4 linked regions of the Homo sapiens genome follow. The protein of the gene in region 4 purifies or fractionates together with the protein of the main gene of each other region. This does not show direct contact. Each region holds a gene or a part of one and is shown on either strand. Other genes may lie near its edges.

Region 1 (7,052 bases), on a different chromosome or scaffold from region 4:
GTTTTTATAGATGCAAGCACTGTGGCACCTACTGGTATAAATGCACCTGCTGATTGGAATGTTCTTTCCCCAGATCTTCCCCTGCTGGTTTCTTCCCAGTATTCAGGTCTCAGCTCAAATGTGACTTCCTCAATGAGGCCTCCTGGTGATCAGATCTAAAGCACCCTCTACACAATCACTGTTTAGTGCTATACCCATTAATTTACTATCATCACACTTGTCACTATCTGCAGATGTCTTGTTTGGTTACTTTTGTAGTGTTTGTCACTGCCAGAATATCAGTTCTATGAAGAAAAGGGCCTTGTCTGTCTTGCTGTTTGTAGACATGAGGAAGGCACCATGATATAAATGTGTGTTAATGAATGAATGAATGAAATTTGTCTGAGAGAACCATTCATTCTAACCAACATTTATGGAGTAACTACTTTGAAAAGAACCATTCTGTCTTTACTATCAAGCCAAGATACTCAAGGAAGGCAGCAGAAGTGGAAGCTCCATGTGGGCAGAGGAGCCTAGTCTTGAGATGTGATTTAGCTGGTATTTGGGTGAAACAAATAAACCAGCCTCAAAATAACACAAGGGGCCGGGTGCAGTGGCTCACGCCTGTATCCCAGCACTTTGGGAGGCTCGAGGCAGGCAGATTACTTCAGGTGAGGAGTTCGAGACCAGCCTGGCTAACATGGTGAACCTCCATCTCTACTAAAAATACAAAAACTAGCTGGGCATGGTGATGGGTGCCTGTAATCCCAGTTACTCGGGAGGCTGAGGCAGGAGAATTGCTTGAGCCTGGGAGGCAGAGGTTGCAGTGAGCTGAGATTCTGCCACTGCACTCCAGCCTGGGTGACAGAGCGAGACTCCGTCGAAAAGAAAAAAAGAAAGAAAGAAAAAAAACACACAAGGATGTGCAACTGATGCAGGGCAGGTGAGCCCAGAATTGGGCTTAGCTCAGGAGGGTTCTTGGTTTTGCTCAGGAAAGAATTTAAGAGCTACCTGGTAGAAGAAAAGCTCTACTGATATGGCAACAGCTCCCTGAGTGCCCCTGTAGAGCAGAGCTACCCTATAGGCAGTGTGCTGACAGCAGTAGCTTAAAGGCAGGTCTGCAGTGATATTTATAACCTACTTTCAATTACATGCAAATTAAGGGGCAGATTATGCAGAAATGTCTAGAAAAAGGGTGGTAACTTCCGGTTGTCGGCTCACTGCCATGGAAAGGGGCAGTAAGCTCTGGATGTTGCCATGACAATCGTAAACTGACATGGCACACTGGTGGGCACGTCTTATGGAAAACTACTTCTGCCCCATCCTTGTTTTGACTACTCCTCAATTTGGTCCCATGTCAGAGCCCTGCCTCCAGAGTCAAGCCCTGTCTACCTCACAATTATTATGTATCAGGTTTTTAAAAAATAACACAAGTAAGGCTGGGCATGGTGGCTCACGCCTTTAATCCCAGCACTTTGGGAGGCCGAGGTGGGCAGATCACTTCAGATCAGAAGTCTGAGACAAGCCTGACCAACATGGTGAAACCCTGTCTCTCCTAAAAATGCAAAAAAAAAAAAAAAGAAAAAAAAATTAGCTGGGCATGGTGGCAGGCGCCTATAGTTCCAGCTACTTGGGAGGCTGAGGCAGAATTGCTTGAACCCATGCAGCGGAGTTTGCAGTGAGCTGAGCACCACTGCACTGCAGCCTGAGGGACAGAGCAAGATTCCACCTCAAAAAAAAAAAAAAAAAAAAAAAAGGAAAAAGAATAACACAAGGAAATTAAACACAGATAACGTGCATCTGGATAATCTGGAATATTTTCAGCCTGGGATCTTCCTCGTGCTCGGAAACGTGTAGGGAAACGTGTAGGGACAGTTTTCAGCTGGTGTGGGGTGGGGGAATGCCAACATATGGTTGGCTTTCCACAGTCCTGCTAAAGCCCTGCAATGTGCAGAACAAACCGGTCCAGCTAAGAAAAGTCCCACCCAAAATGCTGAGAGCACCTCTGTACTCAATCAACCGTTGAGGTAAAAGGATGCTTGCAAGTACAACACATGTATCAGTGCATTTTAAACTCATTATAAAATCGTTCTGTAAACCAAAAATAAAATTCTACGCCCAGAACCATCTGAAAAGACCACTCCTCTGGGTCAAAGGCATTCCAAATTTAACCACAAAAACTAGTTCAGGCCATGATGGGAAGGGGAGCCAGACATGCCTCATTATTCCCTCCTCCGTTTGGAATTTAGGCACAGCTGACCAGCATTGACATCAACACAGGCCTCAAGACAGGTAGAACACACTCTTTAAGTCTGACAAGAAACATTTACAATCTATCTCTCTAAAGCCTGCTACCTGGAGGTTTAATCTGCATGATGAATCCATGGTCTCCACAACCCCTTATCTTAACCCAGATATTCCTTTCTATTCATTCAAATCTTTTTTTTTTTTTTCCCCATACGGCTCTGTCACCCAGACTGGAGTGCAGTGGCGCTTTCTCAGCTACTGCAAGCAACCTCCGCCTCCTGGGTTCAAGCGATTCTCCTACCTCAGCCTCCTGAGTACCTGGGGTTACAGGCGTGTGCCACCTCGCCCCACTAATTTTTGTATTTTCAGTAGAGAGGGTTTCACTATGTTGGCCAGGATGGTCTCAATCTCCTGACCTCGTGATCTGCCCGCCTCGACCTCCCAAGTGCTGGGATTACAGGCGTGAGCCACCGCGCCCAGCCCTCTATTGATTCCAGATCTTTAGATAACAATTCTTTCAACCAAATGTATAAAAAATCAAGTTGTAGCCCAACCACCTTGGGGACATGTTCTCAGGATCTGCTGAGGGCTCTATCACCGGCCATTGGTCACTCATATTTGGCTCAGAATAAATTTCTTCAGATATTTTACAGAGTTTAACTCTTTTCATCAACAGTTCCCACTCCCCAGTGTTAATGTTATAAACAATTCAGTAAAACTGGGAAATGTGGTCTATTAAAAACTTGGGGCCGAGTGCGGTGGCTCACGCCTGTAATCCCAGCACTTTGGGAGGCCAATGTGGGTGGATCACCTGAGGTCAGGAGTTTGAGACCAGCCTGGCTAACATGGCGAAACCCCGTCTCTACTAAACATGAAAAAAAAAAATTAGCCGGGCGTGGTGGCGGCGCCTGTAGTCCCAGCTACGCGAGAGGCTGAGGCAGCAGAATTGCTTGAACCCAGGAGGCGGAGGTTGCAGTGAGCCGAGATCGCACCATTGCACTCCAGCCTGGGTGAGAGAGCGAGACTCTGTCTCAAAAAAAAAAAAAAAAGACCGCCAGGGCTCAAACAAAAAACCTCGGAAAAGCCCTGGCGGTCTTTTTTTTTTTTTTTTTTTTTTTTTTGGGACAGTCTTGCTCTGTCGCCCAGGCTGGAGTACAATGGTCGGATCTTGGCTCACTGCAACCTCTGCCTCCCAGGTTCAAGCAATTCTTCTGCCTCAGCCTCCCAAGTAGCCACCACGCCCAGCTAATTTTTGTACTTTTAGTAGAGACGGGGGTTTCACCATGTTGTCCAGGCTGGTCTTGAACTCCTGACCTCAGGTGATCCACCCGCCTCGGCCCCCCAAAGTACTAGGATTACAGGCGTGAGCCACCGCGTCCAGCGCCCTGGCGGTTTTTAATCAAGTAGAAAAGCTGCATTATACCACTTGCTTCGGTTGCTTCAGTGAGAACGAAGAAATGGAAATGCAAATCCCTTATTAGTTGTAGGAAACAGATCTCAAACAGCAGTTTTGTTGACAAGACCGCAGGAAAACGTGGGAACTGTGCTGCTGGCTTAGAGAAGGCGCGGTCGACCAGACGGTTCCCAAAGGGCGCAGTCCTTCCCAGCCACCGCACCTGCATCCAGGTTCCCGGGTTTCCTAAGACTCTCAGCTGTGGCCCTGGGCTCCGTTCTGTGCCACACCCGTGGCTCCTGCGTTTCCCCCTGGCGCACGCTCTCTAGAGCGGGGGCCGCCGCGACCCCGCCGAGCAGGAAGAGGCGGAGCGCGGGACGGCCGCGGGAAAAGGCGCGCGGAAGGGGTCCTGCCACCGCGCCACTTGGCCTGCCTCCGTCCCGCCGCGCCACTTGGCCTGCCTCCGTCCCGCCGCGCCACTTCGCCTGCCTCCGTCCCCCGCCCGCCGCGCCATGCCTGTGGCCGGCTCGGAGCTGCCGCGCCGGCCCTTGCCCCCCGCCGCACAGGAGCGGGACGCCGAGCCGCGTCCGCCGCACGGGGAGCTGCAGTACCTGGGGCAGATCCAACACATCCTCCGCTGCGGCGTCAGGAAGGACGACCGCACGGGCACCGGCACCCTGTCGGTATTCGGCATGCAGGCGCGCTACAGCCTGAGAGGTGACGCCGCGGGCCCCTGCGGGACGGGTGGCGGGAAGGAGGGAGGCGCGGCTGGGGAGAGCGCTCGGGAGCTGCCGGGCGCTGCGGACCCCGTTTAGTCCTAACCTCAATCCTGCGAGGGAGGGGACGCATCGTCCTCCTCGCCTTACAGACGCCGAAACGGAGGGTCCCATTAGGGACGTGACTGGCGCGGGCAACACACACAGCAGCGACAGCCGGGAGGTAAGCCGCGTCCCAGCGGCTCCGCGGCCGGGCTCGCAGTCGCCCCAGTGATGCCGTGGCCCCCGAGGCGGGCGTCATCGGGCAGCGTTTGCCCAGTGCTGGAGGGTTAGGGAGAGCTGCCTGGGCTTGACCGCGCGCCGGTCTCAAAGTCCTGGCTTTGGCCCCTCCTCCGTTTTCCCCTGTGGACCATTCCGCTTCGCAGCGTTTTCAAAAACTGGAGCGAAAGTGATGTGGGCGGGGCAAAGGCGGCGGGAAGAGGAGAGCACTGAAGCTGGCGCGGGAACTTGGTTTCCTGGTGGCCTCCCATCCAATCCCCACGAACCAGCTTTCCTCTTAAACCTTGAAAAGAGAAATTCGGGAGTTCGAGTATAAGTTCTTAGTCGTCCTTTCCTCTTTCCTTTCCGACAGGAGCACCCCAGGCAAAAAATGTCTCGCGGGTCATTGGCGCCAGGCTTTCAGGGGACAGTGGGGCGGGGCGGGGTGGGCACAGGACGTTAGGCAGCCGTTGGCCCTCCCTAAGGCCACACCGTCCTGCCGTCCTGGATCCTGCGCCAGCTGCGCGGGGGAGGGGACTCGAAGGTGTGTGAGCCAGGGGCTGACCTTGACCGCTCAGATAAATGGAGCGCAGCCTTGACACAGGGGTGGAGGTGGTTTTGAATGGGGAAACCCATTCGTGGTGAAGCAGATTCACTGTAGCTAGCGGAAAAGCCCTCCGGCCCACGGACCCATCTAGAGACGAATACATAGCAGCTGCTGTGGCTGATTGGCGTGGGACAGCGTGGGGAGTTTTGTCTGAGGAGAGGGATCCACTTTTCTGCAGCTCCAAGCCCAGGGGCCTTTGATGAGCCATAGACCTCATTTTTAACCCACCTTTCTGCTTAGACATTGAGCAAGTTACTTCTCATATAGCTTCCCTATATGTTAAAAATGGAGAAAATAATGCTTAGTAGGCAATTCTGATAAAAGCAGGTGCTTGCAAAAATCTCTCTGTTGTCTGAATATAAACTGTACCACAAGCGAGTGCGGATGAACGAGGACTGCATTTAAAGATAAGTTTTTACACTTTCATTTCTCTGTGGCTCGACACTTCTGATGCCTCCCTTTTTGTTCCTGGGACACATGCTTGGTGTTGTCTTCACACCTTTGTGACAGGATTAGCACTAGTGGGCAGTGGATGATAGCTCCTCCCTTTTGCCACATGTTCATCCCTGCCCTCGCCACCATCTCACTGTGTGGAATTCCTGTGTCCACTGGTCACCGGGGCACAGAAGTGCTGTCTCAGCCTGAATCGGGCCACTGATGGGACTTGCAGCCTGGGAGCTCCACCGTGATCTCTGGCCCACTTTGCGGGAGTCTAGGCTTTCTGGATGCTCCAGGGCCTCACGTCCCAGGGCAGTTTTCTTCCCTGAAGAAAGTTGGATGGCATGATCTGTCTTCCCATCTTGAAACCGTATGGCAAATTGTTTTTCAGATGAATTCCCTCTGCTGACAACCAAACGTGTGTTCTGGAAGGGTGTTTTGGAGGAGTTGCTGTGGTTTATCAAGGTAAAGAAGTCGCTGCTATTAGAAGTCAGTAGTCTGTTCTCAACACAGCAGCCAGTGAGATCCTTTCAAAACTCAAAGCAGCCAGGTGTGGTGGCTCACGCCTGTAATCCCACCACTTTGGGAGGCTGAGTCAGATCACCTGAGGTTAGGAATTTGAGACCAGCCTGGCCAACATGGCGACACCCCAGTCTCTACTAATAACACAAAAAATTAGCCAGGTGTGCTGGTGCATGTCTGTAATCCTAGCTACTCAGGAGGCTGAGGCATGAGAATTGCTCACGAGGCGGAGGTTGTAGTGAGCTGAGATCGTGGCACTGTACTCCAGCCTGGGCGACAGAGGGAGAACCCATGTCAAAAACAAAAAAAGACACCACCAAAGGTCAAAGCATATCATTCCTCACCCTCAAGCCCTTAGTGGCTCCATTTCACTCAGTAAGAGCCACGGTCCTTATGGTGTCCGTTTTTCAGCTCTGACCTTAGCTGCTGCTCTCTGCACCAGCCCTGCTGTTCTTGTGAGTTTTTGAGCACACCGGGACATCCCCACTCCCTGGAACCTTCTTCCCCCACACTTGGCTTCTTCCTTTGAGTCTCTACTCCACTCGGGCAAGCCTTCCTAGACCTCCTGATTTAAAACTGTGACTCTCCCCCAACCTCCTTGGTGTTTCTCCATAGACGAACATCACCATCTGATGTATGTCAGCCTTTCCCTTCCCCTGTTAGAAGGGGGACAGCAGGTAGTAAAAGTGAAATGTGCTGTAAGCTTTATGAGGGCAGAGGATTTGTTTCTCGTGTTCACTGTTGTATCGCCAGGGCCTCAAACACAGCCTGCCACATAGTAGGAGTCAACATATATTGATCACTAAATGTAGATACCACCTGTGTTCCCATGTTCATATAAATTCTAGAAGAGTCTCTTCAGTAACAAGGTGAACCCCTTCCAGAGGGCTGA
Region 2 (6,891 bases), on a different chromosome or scaffold from region 4:
TCCTCTAGTCCAAAGCTCACATTTCACATGTGAGGACACTGAGCTAGATAGGTGAAGACACTTGTCTAATGAGGCACAGCCTGTTAAATGACAGGGTTAAACTAGAACCCAAGTTCTAGGGCCTATTACACAGTGGCAAGCCTAGAAATGGATTCTGGAAATAAAGCAGGGTAATGTCTGGGAGTCCCCAGGGCCATCATTCTGGCAGATGAGGTGGTGGGGTGGGGGTTGCAGAAGGGTTAGTTCCCTGAACAAAGGACCTCTCCACATCACCTTGGATAAATAACATCAGTCCCAGGAAAAAGGAAATCACATTGCCACATTTTACCTTGTCTAGGAAAATCCTACCTTGTCCTCTCTTGTATAAACAGAGCAAAAACACTGAAGATACAATAACAATACACAGTGAGAACACTACCAGCACACTCAACAACCCAGGGTAGTGAGTATGGAGGCCCATTGGCATGTCTGGAAATAGAATACACATGTATTCTGACTTACTAGGAAATAGCCCCAAGAGGCTGGGGTGGCTTAGCATGCAGGAGCACTATCACAGTTGAGTGCCCTCCAGGGGAGTTCCAAAGCCCCTAGGGGAAACTGCACTTTCTGCTCTCAGAAGTCAGGATTAGAAACTGAATCAGAAGGTCGAGCAGAGGCTGTCTCAGAACATCCTGAAATGCTTGGCATCTCTCTGAAGGCCTTGGGCTCTTTCCCAGTGGGCTTCCTGGGAGGAAATGACCCCAGTGACCAGGCTCAGGAAAAAGGAGACACATTCCCCCAGCCTCAGGATTTGCAGCTCTTCAGAGTAATTTCAGAGGCTTGTGGAGATTGGGACAGAACCTGTTACCTGCACAAAGCTTCCAGGCAAAGATGGAGTGAGAGTTGTTGTCGGTTCCCGGCTGTACAAATTTAAGTCAACTCTTGGTTATCTGGGTTCTGGAAGTTGCTAAGGATATCACCCTCTTCTTCCAGGGGACTCCAATTGTATGTCACATCATTTTCTTCCTTCTCTGCAGAGCACATTAGTGTGACATTTACAGGTACTATTCACTGAAGTCATTAAACTCTGGCTTCCCAAAATATGAGCCAGTGGTGCACCAGAGCTGGCTTGTACCAGCTTGTGAGAACCAATTGTTAAATTTCTAGAAATTCTGCAAGATGGTTGTTAAACACAGCCATCATTTAAAATTAAATTATAAAAATTTACAATTAAATTCTTTTAAAGGCAAAGGTAATAAATATTCAAAATTTATCACCTTCTAATTATTTTTCGACATTTGAATGTTACCTATGCTCTTGAGGTTATTTACATCGATTGTATCTGTGTGCTACTGGGCATGTCCTCCCAACTCGACATGGATTGAAATCAGCCATTGTGGGAGTATCCAGGCTACAGAAATTGGTAGATGCTACAAACTACGGCTTGATCTATGTTTGTCACTCTAGACTTGAAAGCAATGGAGAAAATGTTACTAATGCAGATTCAGCTTAAAAGTGAGTTGTGTCTGTAGCCATTATTGTGAACAGCACCATAAAATGAGGCAATATTTTTCTGGTATTTGAAAACCATTATCCAATTCAGCAAATAAATCACTCACATTGTTGATGAATGATCCAAGTACCAATATAAAAATAATTGTTGAATTACTTTTTTCTTATTACTTAACATAAATGAAAATATCAAGCAACATTCATGTCAGAACTACACTAGTTCATCAATTGCAACTGTAGGTTGTCTAGGGAGATATGTATTTGGCAAAAATCAAAAGCATCCTGTCAGAATTGGTTATACAGAATTAACGATAAAGAGTATTGTATATTTTATTATCACTTATGAAATTGTGTGCTATACACCTTTTACATCAATACAATTTATAATAAATATATACCCCCTTTCTAAAGAGAATTAGTTGAACATTTATCAGCACAACACTACGTGAAATGATTGTTTAAGTTGTTCTGTTTCCTGTTGTATGCGTATTTTCTTTACATTTTGTTTTGTTTTGTTTCAAAAGTGTCCATGGTGAAAAACTACAACCTTTTAAAGTCTGTTTTAAAAAATGCTTTTATTAAAGCAATCTAAAGATAAGCTGTAAAAGGTGTGGGCTACTGAAGGGTTGCTAAAGACCAATCATATTTAGTCAGGTAATAGCTAGATTTGGATCTGGCAAGAGGAAGGTTTTTTTTTTTTTCTTTTCCTTTTTTTTTTTGCTAAGAGATAAGAAAATGACCACCTATAGAGTTGATAAGGTTAGTGTACTCTTGGAAAAGCTGCTGCAGCCATGGCAGGAAGGAAAGAATTGGTATACAACTTTCTAATTAAGAGAACACTAGAAAGGAAATATATTCAGCAGTATAAATAAGGGAATCTTCTGTTTGTACCTGTAAGGGAGTAAAACATGAGCGATAAGCTGATAAGGCTTTTGGCTCCAAAAGAAAAACCTGGCCCGAAGTGTCAAATACTATATCTCTTAGAGGGATTTATTCCAAATTAAAATTAGTGATAATTTGGAGAAATATTTCCTAAAGTTTGAAGTAAGTCCTTGATTGGTTCTAACAATGATTAATATAGATAGGGATCAGTGAAGTTGAACAAAATTTGCATGTGTATCTGATATCTCAATGTTTTTCTGTAGAAACGTTACCTACTTTTCAAAAACAAAATTTTTTTTTGGAAGGCACTGAGGTGGGGGAGAGTGGTGAAGAATAGAATTCCCATATACTTTTCTCTCCAGGAACAGAGACATTATCTTACAAAACTGCTGACCAGAAAAGGTCAGAGTCATGGTTAGCTAACATGTCTTCATCCTCCCAAGCCAAATCGCATAGAAGCCACTGGAGAACTAGTTTGGAATTCCGGCTTCACTACTATGTAGTTGTAGGATTTTGGAGGAGCTGTACAGGTTCACTGAGCTTTAGTTTCCTCATTCACAATATGACGATACCAATTTCTTCCTCATATTATATCTAAAGACATATCTATGTCTATATGCTTGATCGTACATTATGTGCGGAGATAAACCGGTAACAGTGATTGCCTCTGAGAAGAGAGACTTACTTTCCATTGCGTAATTCTTAGGCTCATGGTAGAATTTGTGCAAGTGGATGAAGCACTGCCTCACTGGGAAACACTCCAGTGAAATAAAGCACAGAAAAGAGCCCGAAGAATAATTACTTGGTTCTGTATGACACATGTGCTTTTAAAGGGTTGTAGTGTAGGATGACATTGGGTAAGTCCATGGGCCTAGAAGCCTAGGTGGAGTTCTTAGGATTTTGTATGTAGACTATGAAGTTTTGGAAACGTTTGAGCTGGAGAGAAGACATTCTGATCAAAGGTGGCTTTCAGGAAAGGCTGGTGCGACAGGCAGGGTATTTATTAGAATGAGGCCAGTGACCACTCTGAAACAGACACAAAGTAAGTTCCCTTCAAGGGGCAGGAAGCTCCCTGGGATGGTGAGACCAGAAAGGCACAGAGGCTGAACCCTCGTGATGGCGCTAGGTCCCAGGTTCGCTAGCATCCGAGAGAGGGGATTGGGTCGCTCCAGAGGCCATTGCGAAGGCTGCTGCCAGTTCTAGGGTCGGGGTGGGGTCAGGCTAGGTCCCTATTCCTAGGGCTTTAGCACCGCTCACTCACAAGACCCCTTTTCCCAGGAGGACGTATGGGTTTTTCCTGTCGCTCCAGCTTCTCTTTCGCGGCCCTTCCACGCTTGTCACTTACCTGAGCGCAGCCAATCAGCACCTAGAGGTTGGGCTACTTTCGGCCAAAGGAGAACGGGGACTTGTGGGGGACGCTCCCTGCGCACCAATGAATGTGCATGGAGATGGAGAGGCGGGCCTGCAAGTGCGAACAAGCCAATCACGGAATCCCGGCGGCCGGCGGCCCGGGAGGCAGTCGCGCGCTCGCATCCCCAAGATGGCGGCCGTTAAGGACAGTTGTGGCAAAGGAGAAATGGCCACAGGGAATGGGCGGCGGCTCCACCTGGGGATTCCTGAGGCCGTGTTTGTGGTAAGAGGCACGCTGTTCCCTGGCATCTTGGCTTGAGGCCTTGGACTGCCCCTTTCTTCCCGGCTCCCACCCAGGCCTCGACTGTTGGAAGGAGCTGAGCCAAGTGTTCAGGGAGGGGGCGCTCGGTCTGCTCTCACCCCTCGCACCTGGACAGATTGAGCTCTGCTGGGGGCCCGCCCGGAAGAAACGTAGCTCGAGAAGGCCGTAGAAGAGAACGGGGTGCGGGGCCGGGACGAGGGGCGAGGGGCGAGGGGCGGCGGGTGGCAGGGCAGGGCGGCCTGAGGGACCTCCGGGCTGCCGCCGGTTTTCGTCCCCCTGCTGGTTGGAAAAGGGGAGGTGGTGAGGAGCTCTCGACTCAGCATGGATGCTGGAGACACAGTACAATGAATAGGCAGAACAGCCAGTGCTAAGATGTGAAAACCGGGAATATCACTTTGTCTGTTGAAGGAATGCAGTGGTCTCGGGAATGTTGCCTCGGGAAATGGAAGAAGAGACCGATGGGAAAATAGGATGATAGGTTGGGAGTGTAAAGTCCTTCTGTGTCTTGCTAAGGAATTGAGGTTTTCCAGTAGGCAACGGGCTGTCATCAGAAGGCCTTTCGTTTTAACTACATCATTCTAACAACTTAGTGGAGAATGAATTGTTGAGAGAGGAGGCTGAACCCTCCTGATGGCGCTAGGTCCCAGGTTCGCTAGTGTCCTAGAGGGGATCGGGTTGCTCCACAGGCCGTTCTGGAGGGCGCTGCCTGTGCTGGGTGGCTTTTTAAAAATTTTATTTTATTTATTTAATTTAGAAATAGTAGTTGAAAACTATTTGACTAATGAGAGAAAACATCTGACTGGCCCTCCAGGCCAGGTCATCTGTCTGTCCCCACTTAGCTACTATAAAATCTTCATGGAAGTTTCTCAATCTTTTGGTTTGTACCTTACCTTACCTCTGCCTTTTTTTTACTAACTACGTCTTATATCCTTCTAAAGACTCATTTATTTATACCACACTTGATATTGTATATTCGCATTTGCTGATTGAATTTCGTAATTGGTTATTATTTTGTGTTTTTATGAGCTGTGTCATTTATTTCTCTACATTGATCTATTATCTAACCATAACAAGGAATAAAATTTGTTGAGTGCCAGGCACTTTCTTAATGATTTTACAAAACTCGAGGTGGTAGCTACTACTGTTATGCCCGTTTTTTAGATGATAAAACTGAGGTACGGGGCACTTGAGTAACTTGCCCCAGGCCACACAGGATGTAAGTGAGGTATCCAGGGTTTGAACTTGGACAATCCGTGGAGGTCCAGACTGGCAGCTTACCCCTCATGCTCTGCTACTGGGAGGAGGTGAGGTAGTTCTCATGAATCGCCCTACTTCTCCTGGTCATAGCATAGTGCCTCACACATAGTATAAGCTCAAACTAAGTGTCTAATTGAATTTCCATAGGGCCTTAAATGTTACATTCATGGTGCTCAGCTAGAGATGGCGTCAGAAATCTAACTCGGGAGGAGACACTTTATCTGAGGGCTTTATAATGTCTTGAAATGCTTTTTCCCTACAATGTCGTGGTTATTTTTTTCTAGACCTTAAAATTTCTACCAACATAATGTAATAAGCAACCCAAATTTTATATAACTGTTTATGTTTCCAAACTATTAATAATTGAAGTGACATGGTATTGTAGAAAGATTATTGGCCTCTAAATAGACCAGGGTCTGAATCCTGGCTCTGCTTCCCAGTTGCTGCTTAACCTTAAGCATATTATTTTACCACTTTGAGCTTGAGTTTCTTTAACTGAAATAGGGATGACAATACTTAGAGAGTTGTTATGGGAAACAGAGAACATGCTTGCAGTATTGCAGTGTAGTAGGTGTCGAATAGGTATTAATATTCATGATGATAGGAAGCAATATACCATAGTGGTTAGAAGTCAGACCCAGTCCATTCCCCAACCCCGCTGAGGCAGTAATTTGTTTTCTTTCTCTGCTTGAATTGTTGTTTCACCCTTGTCCATTTCATGACCTCTTCATCTTTCCACATCTAGTTCAGATATCATCTCCCTGTAGTTTTCTCTGACCTCTACCCCAAAACAAAATCCCTGGCACTTTGTGTCCCTGTGGCACATTATGCTATACATAGGTGTCACGTACTCTTATAAGCGTTTCACATATGCTAACTCATTTAATCCCTGGTGACGAAAAGGTACTTGTACAGATGATGAGGAAATTGAGGCAAAGAGAGGTTAAATAACTTCCCTAAGGTCAACTCATCTAATGAGTGGCGAAGCTGGGATTCAAACCAGGCACCTCCTGTCTCTTAACCACAGCCTATGCCGCTATAGTTAATTCTTGCTAAACTCCAGCACCTGATAACATGTATCATGTGCCAGAAACTTACACTTCTTTCTCTTCCCTGCAGTGACCCTTCTAGGAAGATGGCATCTCTCTTTAACATACAGAACTCAGCCATTATCTCTCAGCCTCACCTTTTCAATTTCCTTTACTGTCTAGTTTGATGGCTTCTTAGTTCACTCCCTTGCTGTGTTTCTCTTCCTTTTTCTTCCTTGTTTCAGCTAAGATATTCTCTGGTAGCTAGTAAATATGGATAAGAATAATGATGTGAAGATCTTAGAAGCTATAAGATAATTGAAGTTACTTATAATAAAGAACTAGAGTTCTGTAAAGTACTAGACGACTCTTGTAGCATCTCTTTTAAGTTTCATATATTTTCATCTTGTTTCTGATCCTTATCTAATTAACTAGCCTTTCTTCAAGGATCAGCATGTGGTATAAAAAATATTTTAACATCAGTTTTACTGCTTTTCTTTTGATCAGTTATTACTGTTACAAAAGATTATTCTGTTTGCCTTTTAGGTTTACTTTGTTTCA
Region 3 (7,538 bases), on a different chromosome or scaffold from region 4:
TTCCAAGTTGATTTAGTCAATCTGGAATGGGCCCAAGCTTTCTTTTTAAACTTCCTGAGTGATTCTCATGTGCAGTCGGGGTTATAATTGCTGGTATTTAGTTCGTTTGGATCATGATTCCTTCCTGTGTGTTCATCTCATTCCCCCATTCCATCGTCATTAAATAGGAGCTCCACCAAAGCACAAACATGATTTCCTTCCTCTAAATTTCTCAAACGCTCAACCCAGGAATCTACAGATAGTGATTATGCAATACACAGATTCTAAAGATGCCAAAGAGAAACTAAGACATAGTTTTACTCCAGCAAAGGGGACACCCCCGTGGTTCACACTGCAATCCATGTTCCTTATTATGGAGATAGGGTCAAGAGGTGCCCCAGGAAAAACTTACCCTGTTTCATGGCGTGCTTCTCCTGAAGAGCTGGTTGGATTTTCTCCATCTGCTTGGTTAGAAAATCTATCTTCCTCTTGAAGAAGTCCTTGGCATCCTCAGCTGTCTACAAGATCAGAGGTGAATAAGGGGCTAAAAGGAGACTCCCTCTGGCCATGCTGCGCTCTAGAGCTTCCCCTGAATTTCCCTTCCCTGTTTAGAGGGGCATCCACATGCTCTCACTCACCTTCTCTACATAGTACCCAGTTCCCACATCGATGAGCACGTGTTCCACATCATGCAGCTTCCCAGGGACATACATCTGAGAAGCAAGAATTAAGGGAAAAACTAGCCAGCCCAGCATGAGCCATGATTCCGCCAGCCAGCCTGCTTGGCCTCCAAAGACCCTCTTTTTCCAAAAAGCTACAAGGCATAAGGACTGAATAATCTGGAGGCCTTAGAACAATACCTATAACTCCAAATGGAAAGAAGACAGAGAAGTTGGTTCTTTAAGGAGAAAATGATGTATGCTGGAACACCCTCTTGTCCTGCCTCATCCCATCTCTCACTCTCTAAGCAGTTCTTGCAATTCTTCCCATTAGCCCCTCCAGAAAGACTAGACATGTTTTCCTACTGTTGTAGAGTACTACAAGTAAAAAGCCAGCCTCATTTCCCTTAATGCCCTCAATCATGAAGTAGCTAATTCCTGACAAAGTCAATGTTTTGTTTGTTTTTTGCTTTCTGAGACAGAGTCTCGCTCTATCGCCCAGGTTGGAGTGCAATTGCCCGCTATCGGCTCACTGCAACCTCTGCCTCTCGGGTTAAAGCAATTCTCCTGTCTCAGTCGCCGGAGTAGCTGGGATTACAAGCATGTGCCACCACGCCTGGCTAATTTTTGTATATTTAGTAAAGACAGGGTTTCACCATGTTGGCCAGACCGATCTCTAACTCCTGACCTCAGGTGATCTGCCAGCCTTGGCCTCCCAAAGTGCTGGGATTACAGGCGTGAACCACTGTGCCTGGCTAATTTTTTTTTTTAAACCATTCCCTACTACACACTACTATTCCTGTGTTCCTTTTAGCCTGTCAGTTCTGAGACTACAGATTAAAGATGCCCTACTGCCATAACTTGCTCATTCAAATAAAACACTGAACAAGTGAACACAATCCAGGTTTCTTAGTGACAGTTTAGAAATGAGCCACAATTAAGCTGAAGTTGAAGATTAACAGAGCCAAGCTCCCTGTTTCTATATCCTCCTATTTTTGTCTATTGCCTGTATCTTCTAAGATATTAGCAAAGTGTAAACCACCAGCTTTATCTCCATATTAATGTTCTCAAACAGCAAAGGGAAATATTACATCTCAACTATACATACTCCTTGGTGTTCACAAGACATTAGCTGGATGTTGGTGTGAAGTCAGATAAAAGAGCTACAAAGTGTGTAATAAGAGTATTCTTGGCCGGGGGCAGTGGCTCACGCCTGTAATGTAATCCTAGCACTTTGGGAGGCCGAGGCAGGCGGATCACGAGGTCAGGAGTTCGAGACTAGCCTGGCCAATATGGTGAAACCCCCAACTCTACTATTAATACAAAAATTAGCCGGTCGTGGTGGCGCGTACCTAAAGTCCCAGCTACTCGGGAGACTGAGGCAGAAGAATCTCTTGAACTCGGGAGGCGGAGGTTGCAGTAAGCCAAGATCTCACCATTGCGCTCCAGCCTGGGCGACAGAGCGAAATTCCGTCTCAAAAAAGAAAGAAAAAAAAAAAGGGTATCCTCAAAATCATTGTGAGGAGAGGGTAATCTGAAGTAATCAAAACAATCCCCCTCCCCGCTTTTTGGGGGAGTGAAGGAGAAAGGGAGAAGGCAGCAGGTAGCCGTTCCTGTGGAAAGGATACAGAACTCGTCAGTGGGACGAGTAATTCTTTCCCTGTGAAAGCAATGAAGACAAACACCTGGGGAAGGTTAGCGGCTCCAACGTAAGACGTTAAAGAGAGTTCCAACAGGGCACAGCACCCACAGACAGTGTGAAAAGAACGGAAACAGGGGCAATAGGAGCAGAGGAATGTCCTGTACTTTTCAATTCTAGGCAGGCAACATGCAAAGGGTTCATGAAGCGGTATACGATATGTAATGGATTTTCTCGTTTCAGGTAAGAAAAACTGGGTTAGGAGGTGGGACGAGAGAAGCAGGTTCGCCACTTTAGGTTACCCTCACCCGCCTACCCCATACCCTCGTTGCTCTTGTTCAGCACGTTCAGACAGTCCTTGGCTTCCACATACTTGGTCTGTACCACTTTGAGCTGAGCAATGGACGTGGACAAGAACTCCACTTCCTACAGAGGACCGGGATAGCGGGTCAATGAGAGGACTAAGGGGAGAAAGGAGCGCGGCCGGGGAGGGGGCAGGTCCTGGGATCGGATAGAGGTTTCGCCTGGGAAAGGTAGGCTGCCAACTTGGAACCGGGCGCGAGAAGTACGCGTGGGCAAGGGGGATGTAGAGCAGGAAAGAGGTGCCTCTGGGGCCCGTCCCCACCTGGTCCAGCTGGTTCTTGAGCATTTCTAGCTGCGGCAGATTCAGCTCCGTGATGTTAATAGACTGCGCCATGTTGGGAAGGCCGACTTAACGAAGAGGAAGTCTCTCGGCGAGCAACGCTCTAGCCGTCCTCTGCGCGTCTCGGTGGCGCCGGGAGGCCTCGCTGCGCCAGACAGCTCTATGATCCTCCGTCCCGGAAGGGAAGGAGGGGCTTGAGCCTCTCAGAGACTGTTGTGTGAGTTCATTTCATAAAATGTCTTAAGCCTAGTATTGTAAAGTAGCAGCAAACAGGACTCCTGCCTACAAGGAACTGCAAAATCTTAAAGTTCTCACGACACAACCACGATATTACAAAGTAGTGTATGCTACTCCACGTGGGTGGTATAAGCTACTGGAAAGCAGGCTGGATTGCCATGGCGACGGCTCGGGGGCCTGGCCCTGCTCCTCTCCACCCCGCTTGCTATTGCTGCCTGCTGGTACCCCGCCAGGCCCGATTTCAAATGTTCCTCCCAGCACGGCATGGAAATGGCAGGGAAATTCTAAACTCTTTTTCCCAGATGGCCTCTGAGGCCGAAAGGCAGGAAAAAAAAAAAAATCCCTTGTCAGACCGTTCTGAATTGTCCTTGGAAAAAAACAGGCATTAGATTGAAAGCTTGTCGAAGGCAGGAACCAACCATGTTCTCATCACTGAACCAATTCTTCCCCTCTCGCTATAACCATCTTCCCCCAGCCGGAAGTAGGCTGACACGTAGTAGGATCTGAAAAAGGGTTTATCACCCGTTGCCAGTGAGGTGGTGGGAGAACAGCAAGGAAGCGCCATTGTCAACCAAGTACAGCACAAATTAATCAATAAAATATTTTGGCCGGGCATGGTGGCTCACGCCTGCAATCCCAGCACTTTGGGAGGCCGAGAAGGACAGATTGCTTGAGCCCAGGAGTTTGAGACCAGCTTGGGCAACACGGCGACACCCCGTCTCCACAAAAAATACAAAAATTAGCCGGGCTGGTGGCACACGCCTGTAGTCCCAGCTACATGGGAGGCTGAGGTGGGAGGATCGCTTGAGCTGGAGAGTTGAGGCTGCAGTAGGCTGTGATTGTGCACACTAGCAACAGAGCTAGACTCTGTCTCAAAAAAAAAAAGGTTTTACCATGTGCTGTATGTGAGGGATACGTGAGAGTGTAAGATACTTGCTTCCCTTGAGCTTAACAATTGGAGAGAAAAACCACACTAGAACTCCACAGATCCACAGACTCTACTGCTAAAGTTACACATTGGTAAGTGTAACAGGTGTACATGGGCAGACAGCAGTAGCCTTTAACATCTACTTAGGAGGCAGGCAGGGCAACTGAGGCATTAAAACTAGTGCCATGGCTGGGCGCGGTGGCTCACGCCTGTAATCCCAGCACTTTGGGAGGCTGAGGAGGGTGGATCACAAGGTCAGGAGTTCGAGACCAGCCTGGCCAATATGGTGAAACCCTGTCTCTACTAAAAATGCAAAAATTAGTGGGACGTGGCGGCATGTGCCTGTAGTTCCAGCTACTCAGGAGGCTGAGGCAGGAGAATCGCTTGAACCCAGCAGGCAGAGGTTGCAGTGAGCCGAGATTGCGCCACTGCACTCCAGCATGGGCAACAGAGCAAGACTCTGTCTCAAAAAAAAACAAAAACAAAAAACAAAACACTAGTGCCACTCCAAAGATACCTGCGGCAGGAAGACAGGACGGACGGATGGTACCTGGCCAAAACACTCTCAAAGGGTCTATCACTACCCTTCCTTGGGCCTGTCTCTACTTAGCATTTTGATGCCCCTTTCTCCTCCAGATTTGTCTGCTGAGGCCCAGCCAGGCCCAGCAGGCTTTGTCCTGTGTCTTTGCCTTTCTTCCCCAAGCACTCAAACTTGATCTGCTGTAACCTGTTCCTGTCAGCTTACAGTACCACATAGTAGGAAGGGGGCAGTCATGCCGTGTCTTTAAATGTTCTCAGATAAACTACGCAAAACAGGGTTTAAATGATGTATCTTTATTATACTGAGGTTAAATCAAAAGGAAATGTTTCATATAAAACACTGGGGAAAATCACTTTAAAAGAGTTATCCTAAGGATTAAATCTAACCTTGGAGGTAGAACAGTTATGAGGCTTCTAGCATCAATAAGACAGCTCCATGGGGTTACCGCAGAGAGACAGGCAAGCCATAGGCTATAGGTGCAGCCCCAATAAGATACTTGAGTCGGGGAGCTTGGCGGGCCTGGTTTACATAGTAGAGAAGGGGGGCCCCTGGGCCTGCTCCAAGCCAGCCTTGCAGCAGAGCTTCCGTGTAGCGGTCAATGTCGCGGTCAGTCACATCCCAGAGATTACCCAGAAACAAGGGGCTGGGAAAAGAAAAGGAGGAAATACAAAGTAAGGGCTCTAAAACAGAATACATAGGAAAACACCATTGGTGGTGGGGGTGGGTGAGTGGAGAGGATTGAACCAATGAGAAACTCCTTTGGCCCTTGGTTACAAGAGAAGAACAGAAGGGAGCTAAGGGTTAATGGTCCAGGCATGCCAGGGAACTAACTAGGATAGGAGGAAAATGGGGCACAAGAGAGGCAAGATTCAGACCTGGGAAAGAACCTGGGGTGAGGGCAGGAGTCCTAATGCCCTAGGATGGGTCTTGCCCTTGGAGACTCACCAACCAGCCATGATGTACTTGAGCACGATGCCAGCCCCCTCCAGGTTTCCACGCACAGCCAGGGCCGCACTGCTACAGCCAAACAGCAGGGCCACTGCCCGACAGCTCAGCCGCAGGACAGCCTGCCCATCAAGGAAGCGGGCACCAGCCCCATGCCCTGCATAGCTAAGGCAGAAGGAGGTGAGATGAGTCTTGAGCTAGTAATACCTGGCCTCTGCCTGTGTCTTCAGAGGCTCTCAAGTCCCAAAGCAACCCATGGTGATACCATCCTCAGGACTGCCCCTCTCCCCACATCCCTGCCTTAAGCACTCACATATACAAATCATGCTTTGTCAGGGCTTCCTGCACCTGTTCAGGTCTTGGCACCTCCCCAACCACTCCTCTCCAGCCAGCTTCACTGCAGGGAAAAGGCAGGTGTGAGAATAGGGAAATGCATGGCAGGGGTCAGGTGGCAAAGACAGCAGAGGGATCATTAGATAGAAGGTGGGCTGCAACAGCTGTTTCTGGAGAAAAGGCTTGTTGCCCCTGTATGTTGTCTACCCTTCCCCACACGTCTTCTTGTCTTCGCGCCCCTGACCTGCTGAAATTGGCTCGAAATTGCTCCTCTGTGCTTGACAGGTTATTGTGAGGGTTCAGGACATAGAAGGTACTTCGTGGATCCACCCCTTGACTCAGCACTGGCGAGGCCCCATACTGAGGAGGAGACACTGGCGATTAGGATGCTTGTCTCACCAAGAGGCCCAAGCTCTAACAATCTCAGCCCCTTTCCATGTCTGAGCCATTCCTAGGACCCTCTCCTATCTTCTCAGGTTTCTCTGCCCTTCTTTGTTGACGTCTTCCCCAGTCGCCAGTCATCCCCAGACACTACGCCCTGAACCCCACCTCTTTGATGATGGAGTAGCTGAGTAGGAAGCGGAAGGAGGGCAGCCGGGTGACAGGCAGTGCTTGGAGGCTGGGCATGCTTTCCCACGGCAGCTTCTGCAAGTCCTGGGCAAAAAGCACTAAGAGGTTACTGTCCCCAGCCAGGTATATGCAGAAGTCAGAAGGGGCATGGGGATGAGTTGGTATTCACTCCCCACTAGACACTGCCCCTCTGCCCCAGCTCCTTACCTTGTCTAGGACCAAGACAAGGTGGCTATTGCTTGGTACTGTCAGGCCCTGTAGACGTCCTACTGCCTCATTCAGGAGCTCCTGGGCTCGCTCTGGCTGGGTTGGGCACAGCCCGTAGGCCAGGGCCTGAATGTCCTGAGGGGTGAGGGCACCGGCACCACTGAGCATGATCTGCAGGGAAACAGTGGTGGTGAGCACCATCTTCATTCATGATAGCTGCTGGGAAAGGATTAAGTCCAGTTTCTTCCCTTTCCCTGTTTTCTTTTTTTTTTGACAGAGTCTTGCTCTGTCGCCCAGGCTGGAGTGCAGTGGCGCAATCTCAGCTCACTGCAACCTCCACCTCCCAGGTTCAAGCGATTCTCCTGCCTCAGCCTCCTGAGTAGCTCGGACTACAGGCATGTGCCACCAAGCCCAGCTAATTTTTGTATTTTTAGTAGAGATGGGGTTTCACCCTGTTGGCCAGGATGGTCTTCACCTCTTGACCTTGTGACCCACCTGCCTCGGCCTCCCAAAGTGCTGGGATTATAGGCGTAAGCCAAGGGGCCTATCCTTTTTTTTTTTTTTGAGATGGAGTCTCACTCTGTCACCCAGGCTGGAGTGCGGCGATCTCAGCTCACTGCAACCTCCGCCTCCCAGGTTCAAGCAATTCTCCTGCTACAGCCTCCCGAGAAGCTGGAATTACAGGTGCCTGCCACCATGCCCAGCTAATTTTTGTATTTTCGTAGAGACAGGGTTTCACCATGTTGGCCAGGCTGGTCTCGAGCTCCTGAGCTCAAGCAATCCATCTGCCTTGGCCTCCCAAAGTGCTGGGATTACAGGTGCAAGCCACTGGGCCTGGCCCCCTTCCCTGCTTTCCT
Region 4 (7,024 bases):
TGAGTTTTTACTTACTTACTAACTTACTATATTGACATCTTTACATGTCAATAAAAAAAATATTTTTTTTTAAATTTCGGTTTGGTTTTTTATTTAATTAGTCATTCTTTTTTAAAAAAATTTATTTATTTTTTAGACATGGGGCATTGCTATGTTGCCTGGGCTGGACTTGAACTCTTGGATTTAAGCAATCCTCACACCTCAGCTTTCTGAGTAGCTAGGACTACAGGTGCATGCCATTATGCCTGGCTGCCCCCTTGGTTTTATCTCCTGTTTTGTATCCTATTTCTGTGCCAGTGTGGATACTTAAGGTCTCCAGGATTCAGCATAAACTCTCAGGATGAAAGCCAATTTACTGCTGTCTTACATTCCTGAATTCCCAGTTTCACTTCACTTTGGACCTTTGTGGAATCCTTCCTTTTGTGTTAGTTCAACAAAATGTTAAAAAAAAATTTTTTTTTCCTTTGTTTCTAATCAGGAGTGTTCAGGGTATCTACTCTTCATTATGCCAATAACAGAAGTCTGTAACTCACTGAGCAGTCCACAATGTGGATGTGCCATAAAGTTTTAATCACTTCCTTACTAAGGAAGTGATTAAAGTAAGAAATAAATTCAATTTAAAAAAATTTTAAAAAAAGAAGTTCAATTTATTTCTACTTGCTTCCACGCTAAAAATTACGACGTAAAAATTCAGTAACTTTCCTCACCAGTGGAGTTAGGCAAAGAAGCAAGATAGGCTCATTCTTTTTTTTTTTTTTTTGAGATGGAGTCTCGCTCTGTTGCCCAGGCTGGAGTGCAGTGGCGCGATCTCGGCTCACTGCAAACTCCACCTCCCGGGTTCACGCCATTCTCCTGAAGATAGGCTCATTCTTATGTCTTTTCTATGCTGCTTAATTTGTGAATACCCTGAAACCTAAATGCTAATAGGATACGTTTTTAGACACCCTCTAAAAATTTCCCACCCAAAGTGAACTCGTCATAAGCATTTTGTTGTTTCTGAATAGCATATGTCTAGGTGACCATACTTTGGAAATTGTGTCCAAAATGCAGCAGTGCAAGTGATCTGGGATTGTGTTTTGGGCAGGTGAACAATGGTTTTGATTCATACTGAGTTATAAGAAAGTGGAAGTTGTACCAAACTGCAGGATGATTTAGAAAACGGAGTCTGATGTTTCTCAAATAATCAAAACCGAAAGTCTCAGAATTATGTTTTCAGATGGCATAATTACAAATAAATGAGGAAGTGAAATAGCAGGTTACAAGTCCTTGAGAGTGGACAGTGCAGAGGCACGTGGCACTGATTTCCAGGTCAAAGAAGAGGCCTTTTGCAAAGCATCAACTCGAATTCAGGTTATATAATCCTGAGTATTTTAAGCATGTTATCTGCATATTATTTGTCATGAGAGAATACTTTCCCTCTTCATGGTTTATTTTTCCTTATTGGTACATTTTGAACTCCAGAATTCTTTATTTACTATTTGGCTTTCCATAAACAATCAGGCAGAATGACTATGAGATTCTCTACATTGAGCAACTGTGTACATAATATTTGCTTATGATAAGACTTATATTATCATGATAAATCCTTTCTCTTCACATAGTATCTGATAATCCAATGCCCTTTTAAACAATAAGAAAGATGTTTTCCAAAGACTTTTTTTCAGAAATCAGATGTTTCTTGGAGCCTTTTCCAGTCTTCATACAATATATCTTTGCCATTTTTTAAATTGAGGACTAAACCAAACTTTCCATAAGTTTTTGTGTTTGAATTTTTACTGTGTAACTACTCTTTGAGGTAGACATTTGCATTTACCCAACATTCATCCTTGTTAAAACTTGCGTGGCTGAGATGTCCTTAGGTTTGTAGTAGTAAGTTGGCCAGCTTCGGTGGAATCTCTCTGGCCTTTGAAGTTGGCACAGTCCAGTATAGCTACCTCAAAGGATATGTGGTCATGGAAAAACGTGTTTTTGTTGTTGAGTGTTCTTGCTTTCTAGTAATTTTATTTTCTGCTCAAGAGATTTAGTATCTGTTCAGATACTTTATTTTTAAAGGCCACATAAGTAATGACTTGACCTCTAATCTTAGCTTTGAAATTTTCCCAGACACTAATAAAGATGATGTCTGATGACCTTTTATTTGAGAATAGTACTCATTGGCCAGCTATCAGTGCTACTTAAAAATGTATATTTTACTCAAAAAATTATTTCCATGGCTAAAAGACTTTCTCAGTAAAATCACACATGTCATGACATAATTTGGTGACTCTTGCACCTTGTTTTAGAATAGTTTTTACATAACATTACTGAGACTTAGTACTGTTCAAAACAACTCTTCTCTTCAAATACAAATATGAGTTAGTTCTGAGAAAAATATTCTGTAAACCATAATCTTATCTGAAATAGCACCCATCTCTTGGATCCAGTAAGAATATTTTAGACATGAAGGGTTCTATAGTAAAAGACCTGGAATTAATCCTTGTTTTGCATGAATGTGGGCTCTCTTTCCTGTAAATATACAGTAAGGTTTTACAAAGAATCAAGTTACTACTGAAGACTAAGATCATCAGTTGGGCTGGGCTGGGCGTGGTGGCTCATGCCTGTAATCCCAGCACTTTGGGAGGCCGAGGCGGGCAGATCACGAGGTCAGGAAATCGAGACCATCCTGGCTAACATGGTGAAACCCTGTCTCTACTAAAAAATAGAAAAAATTAGCCAGGCGTGGTGGTGGGCGCCTGTAGTCCCAGCTACTCGGGAGGCTGAGGCAGGAGAATGGCATGAACCCGGGAGGTGGAGCTTGCAGTGAGCCAAGATCATGCCACTGCACTCCAGCCTGGGCAACAGAGCGAGACTCCGTCTCAAAAAAAAAAATTATCTGGGCTGGCCGCATTAGGATATAAGCTTAATAATTAGTGGAGTAAAAGAAGTTCTTCAGATTTTATTAATATGTGTGGTAAGGCTTAGTTATGAAGAAGAGGGGACAAGGCAGTTTCCTTCCAGGTGTTGGGGCATAGCTAATTGCCCTTTTTGGTCTGTTTTTACTTGTCTTATATCTATAATAACGGACTCTCTTGATAAGAACCCACCTAGGCACAATGATGTTTTTGTGGGGTTGGCAGAGGAAACTGCATGTTGCTACCTTGATGTGTTTTCTCGTTTGACTTTTTGTTAAGAGATGATGTTTAGTTCTTTGTTGCTGAACTCTGTTAGTGCAAAGAGAAGAAAAATCTTGCTTAATTAATTGCAATATTAAATTGAAATATATTTTAGCTTCCTTAGACAGTCCTGAAAGAGATTTGCATAACTGGGGTCTTCCCTTGGTTCCAGTGGAGGGGAAATATTTCAGTTCACTTACTTGGGGCTATAAAAGTTTGTTCTTCCTTTCCCTGAAGCAAGAATTGTGAACATAAAGTCATAAAACAGTTTCAGTGTTAATTTTTAAAACTTCTCCATATTTCCACCCTCATCAGTGGTAAATAATGTGCCTGATGTAAAATGGAAAAAGTTGAAAATTTCCACTTGTACATTTTGAGCTTTTCAGAGGTACTATATACACTCTGGAAATAATAATAAAAGATACTAAGGCTTATACAGTGCTTTTTGTTTGAGGAACTCATATAAACACTAATGCATTGATCCTAACACAGTGCTTGATTGTGACTTTAAAAGGTCATGAGTTACTGCTGTTACAAAAAAAAAAAAAAAATGGAGGGGCGCTCCACTTTACAAATATAGTTTAAAAAATATCTAGATAAAAATTGAAACAGATAACTGAAAAAACAAAACTTATAGGGTATTTGTTTGTATGTTGACTTTTCTCTTAGCGTATGATATATTTTTATTCCTTTATTATTTTTTCTTTTACATATGAATCTACTTGAAGCCTGATTTTCTTTTCTTTTTTTTTTTTTTTTTAATGTTTTTAAGACAGGATCTTGCTCTGTTACCCAAGCTGGAGTGCAGTAGCACAATCATGGCTCACTACAGCTTTGATATCTCAGTCTCAATTGATCCTCCCACCTCAGCCTCCCTAGTAGCTGGGACTACAGGCGTGTGCCACTGTGCCTGACTAATATTTTAAATTTATTTTTTGTAGAGATGGGTCTCATCATGTTGCCTGGGCTAGTCTTGAACTCCCAGGCTCAAGCAGTCCTCCTGCCTCGGCCTCTCAGAGTGCTGGGATTACAGGTGTGAGCCACTGTGCCCAACTCCCGCAACCCCCCCGCTTTTTTTTTTAATGAGACAGGGTCTTGCTATGTTGCCCAGACTAGACTCAGACACCTGGGCTCAAACAATCCTCCCACCTCAGCCTCCTGAGTATCTGGGACTGTAGGCCCACACCACTGTTCCCTGCCTGATTCCTATATTAAATAAGAAAGCAGAATCTACTTTTAAGCCTTTATTCCTTCTCAGCCAAGAAGGTTTAAACTTCTGGTGGTTTCCTGAGCTTGACGTATTATGTTAATATGCATTTGTCCTTTTAATTTGCTCAGTTTAATATTTGTAGTATGTAGCTATTGATTTCGATGAATTCAATAGTCATGTGGCTTAATTTTCAACTTTCTTGTGTTTCATAGGTTTATTCTTCAGTCCAAGGAAGCAATTCACAGTCAGCTGTTAGAGAAGCAGAAAATAGCAGAAGAAAAAATTAAAGAACTAGAAGTAAGTTTTTATTGGCAATAGGAGTTAACTTTTGGGAGAAAGTAGTAATCTTATTGTGTCATATTAAATGAAAATGTATGCCTGCCTGCCAAAGTAATGTCATATTATTTTTATTTTCTATAATTACGTTGGAGCCGTGAAGCTGTCATATTCATATTCATAGCGCATATAAGACCAAAACAAAAAAAAAAGAATAGTCTCTTCTTTGGAACTGCAGAGAATTTTGATGAGATGGTTTTAACCTGAATGTATTTTGTTCATTGCCCTTGAATGTGTTTATTCTTTAAAAAAAACAAAACCATAAACAAAATGTAATGTATATTTAAACAACACTTGTGTAGTGGATTGTGGTGGATGGGCAGGAGAGTGGGTAATAATGATAAATTTTAGAGGATCTTGGTATAGGGTCTTTTTTACACATTGTAATTTCTTTAACCTAAATTAGGTTCTATATAAGGACAAAGTAGCAAGCTATAACCAATTAACTATCTGAAGGATGGTGCTCCAATGAGAACAATTTTTTCTTTTTAGCTAGGGAAAAAGATGATAGGTAACAGTAAGCAAATCTTTGGAAATATTACTTTATTATTTTTATTATTATAATTTATTTATACATTAAGACCTTTAGTGAGATATTCTTCTTGGGCTTTGGTGAAAGGCCCATCCTGTGTATAGTAAAAGTTAGACTGGACAAAAAGCTGGTTATTTCTTAGGGACCAAGATTTCCCAACATGTGGGTGGATACATTGACTTCATAGGTCATTTCATCTAATTTCTGTAAGTACTATTTGAGGCAGAGGATCAGAATCTAACTCAGCCCTCTGCTGAATTTGGGAGCTACAACTTGTAGCCTCCTGAGGATTTCTTAGGGGCACTGAATTGGCCTGGCCTGGGAGTATGCAGTATCTTAGGTTACTTAGGCTTATTTTTAACTACTGATAGTTGAAACAAACTTGATAATAGATTTGCAGCTTAGAAAAGTGTATTGTAAAAACAAGACAAAAAAGCAAAAAAACCAAGTAAAGAAAAAACAGCCTGTGATAACCAGATTGTTGTTGTGTCCTATTTTAACATTTTAATCAGCTCAACTGTTCTAAGAGGTTCAGTTTGATATCTGTGTTTTCACTCATAAGAAACAAAAGTATCTTTAAAAACCCAAACAGAATCATTTCATGTAGATAAAACAAAATGCATTTTTGCAACTGTAGGTAAATATATTTAAAATTATCCTAATGAATAATAAGTAGCAAGGTAATATGTATATAATTCTCTTTATGAAAACAAAAAACAAACATTTGTGTATGAATATTGAAGATGATATGTAAGGATATATATTAAATTGTTAATACTGTTTACCCTAAAGAAATTAGATGGGACGTAGGGATAAATGATTTTTTCTTTTTCTTTCTTTCTTTTCTTTTCTTTTCTTTTTTTGTTTTTTTTTTTTTTTTTTGAGACGGAGTTTCGCTCTTGTTGCCCAGGCTGAAGTGCAATGGTGTGATCTCGGCTCACTGCTACCTCCGCCTCCTGGCTTCAAGCGATTCTCCTGTCTCAGCTTCCCAAGTAGCTGGGATTACAGGCATGCGCCACCACGCCCTGCTAATTTTGTGTTTTTAGTAGAGATGGGATTTCTCCTTGTTGGTCAGGCTGGTCTCGAACTCCCGACCTCAGATGATCTGCCTGCCTCGGCCTCCCAAGTGCTGGGAATCATAGGCCACTGCGCCTGGCCTTGATTTTTTTCTTACAATCTCTGTAATAATAAATTATAACAAGTATACATTAACTTTTTTTGTTGTTAACTTTCATGATTAAAAAATTAGCAGAGTGGGCACAGTGGCAAATGCTTGTAGTCCCAGCTACGGGAGGCTGAAGCGGGAGGATTGCCTGAGGCATTCCAGCCTGCGCAACATAACAAGACCTTGTCTCTTTAGGGAAAAAAAAAAACACAAAAACCCCAATTATCAAGGTGAAATTGCCACAGGTGATGATTTTATCAATACCGTACTGCTGAGTTCTGGTGAATATTAAGAAATTTACTTTCTGCAAGTTTCCTTTTGTTGAGTGTCTCAAATACTGGTAGAATGTTTTATCTTTTAGGAAGTTCTTTTTTCTTTTTTAATTTTTCATTTTACATGTTACTTACATTATAAAAGCAATAGAAGTACACCATAAATAAAATATAAAACAAATGATTAAACAATGAAAATATTACTTTGTTTTTCCACCCTCGGTACATCCAAATGTCACCTCTACGGTTTCTGTATCATTCCAAACTTCTATATTTATATCAAGACATTCATACATGCATATATATACACAACCTTTTTTTAAAATAGGAATTATGCTATATATACTGTTTTCCATC

The links.
Region 1: the proteins of PFDN1 (region 4) and TYMS purify together in Homo sapiens (co-immunoprecipitation; 2 studies listed by BioGRID and IntAct, with this or other methods). This does not show direct contact.
Region 2: the proteins of PFDN1 (region 4) and VBP1 purify together in Homo sapiens (affinity purification with mass spectrometry; 5 studies listed by BioGRID and IntAct, with this or other methods). This does not show direct contact.
Region 3: the proteins of PFDN1 (region 4) and PFDN5 purify together in Homo sapiens (affinity purification with mass spectrometry; 7 studies listed by BioGRID and IntAct, with this or other methods). This does not show direct contact.

The regions. Positions count from the first base shown.
Region 1 is NC_000018.10:653,612-660,663, forward strand, and holds the start of TYMS (thymidylate synthase), read left to right. Parts: upstream 1-4,041; 5' UTR 4,042-4,131; coding exon 4,132-4,336; exon of another isoform or gene 4,337-4,680; intron 4,681-6,029; coding exon 6,030-6,103; intron 6,104-7,052. UniProt on the Homo sapiens protein: Catalyzes the reductive methylation of 2'-deoxyuridine 5'-monophosphate (dUMP) to thymidine 5'-monophosphate (dTMP), using the cosubstrate, 5,10- methylenetetrahydrofolate (CH2H4folate) as a 1-carbon donor and reductant and contributes to the de novo mitochondrial thymidylate biosynthesis pathway.
Region 2 is NC_000023.11:155,212,570-155,219,460, forward strand, and holds the start of VBP1 (prefoldin subunit 3), read left to right. Parts: upstream 1-3,913; coding exon 3,914-4,006; intron 4,007-6,891. UniProt on the Homo sapiens protein: Binds specifically to cytosolic chaperonin (c-CPN) and transfers target proteins to it. Binds to nascent polypeptide chain and promotes folding in an environment in which there are many competing pathways for nonnative proteins.
Region 3 is NC_000012.12:53,291,004-53,298,541, reverse strand, and holds the start of PFDN5 (prefoldin subunit 5), read right to left. Parts: upstream 3,001-7,538; 5' UTR 2,975-3,000; coding exon 2,903-2,974; intron 2,704-2,902; coding exon 2,601-2,703; intron 2,299-2,600; coding exon 2,267-2,298; intron 693-2,266; coding exon 618-692; intron 498-617; coding exon 392-497; intron 1-391. Other genes in the region: ESPL1 (separin), read right to left, coding at 5,068-5,269, 5,572-5,736, 5,885-5,968, 6,149-6,264, 6,454-6,558, 6,682-6,852. UniProt on the Homo sapiens protein: Binds specifically to cytosolic chaperonin (c-CPN) and transfers target proteins to it. Binds to nascent polypeptide chain and promotes folding in an environment in which there are many competing pathways for nonnative proteins.
Region 4 is NC_000005.10:140,279,084-140,286,107, reverse strand, and holds part of PFDN1 (prefoldin subunit 1), read left to right. Parts: intron 1-4,574; coding exon 4,575-4,659; intron 4,660-7,024. UniProt on the Homo sapiens protein: Binds specifically to cytosolic chaperonin (c-CPN) and transfers target proteins to it. Binds to nascent polypeptide chain and promotes folding in an environment in which there are many competing pathways for nonnative proteins.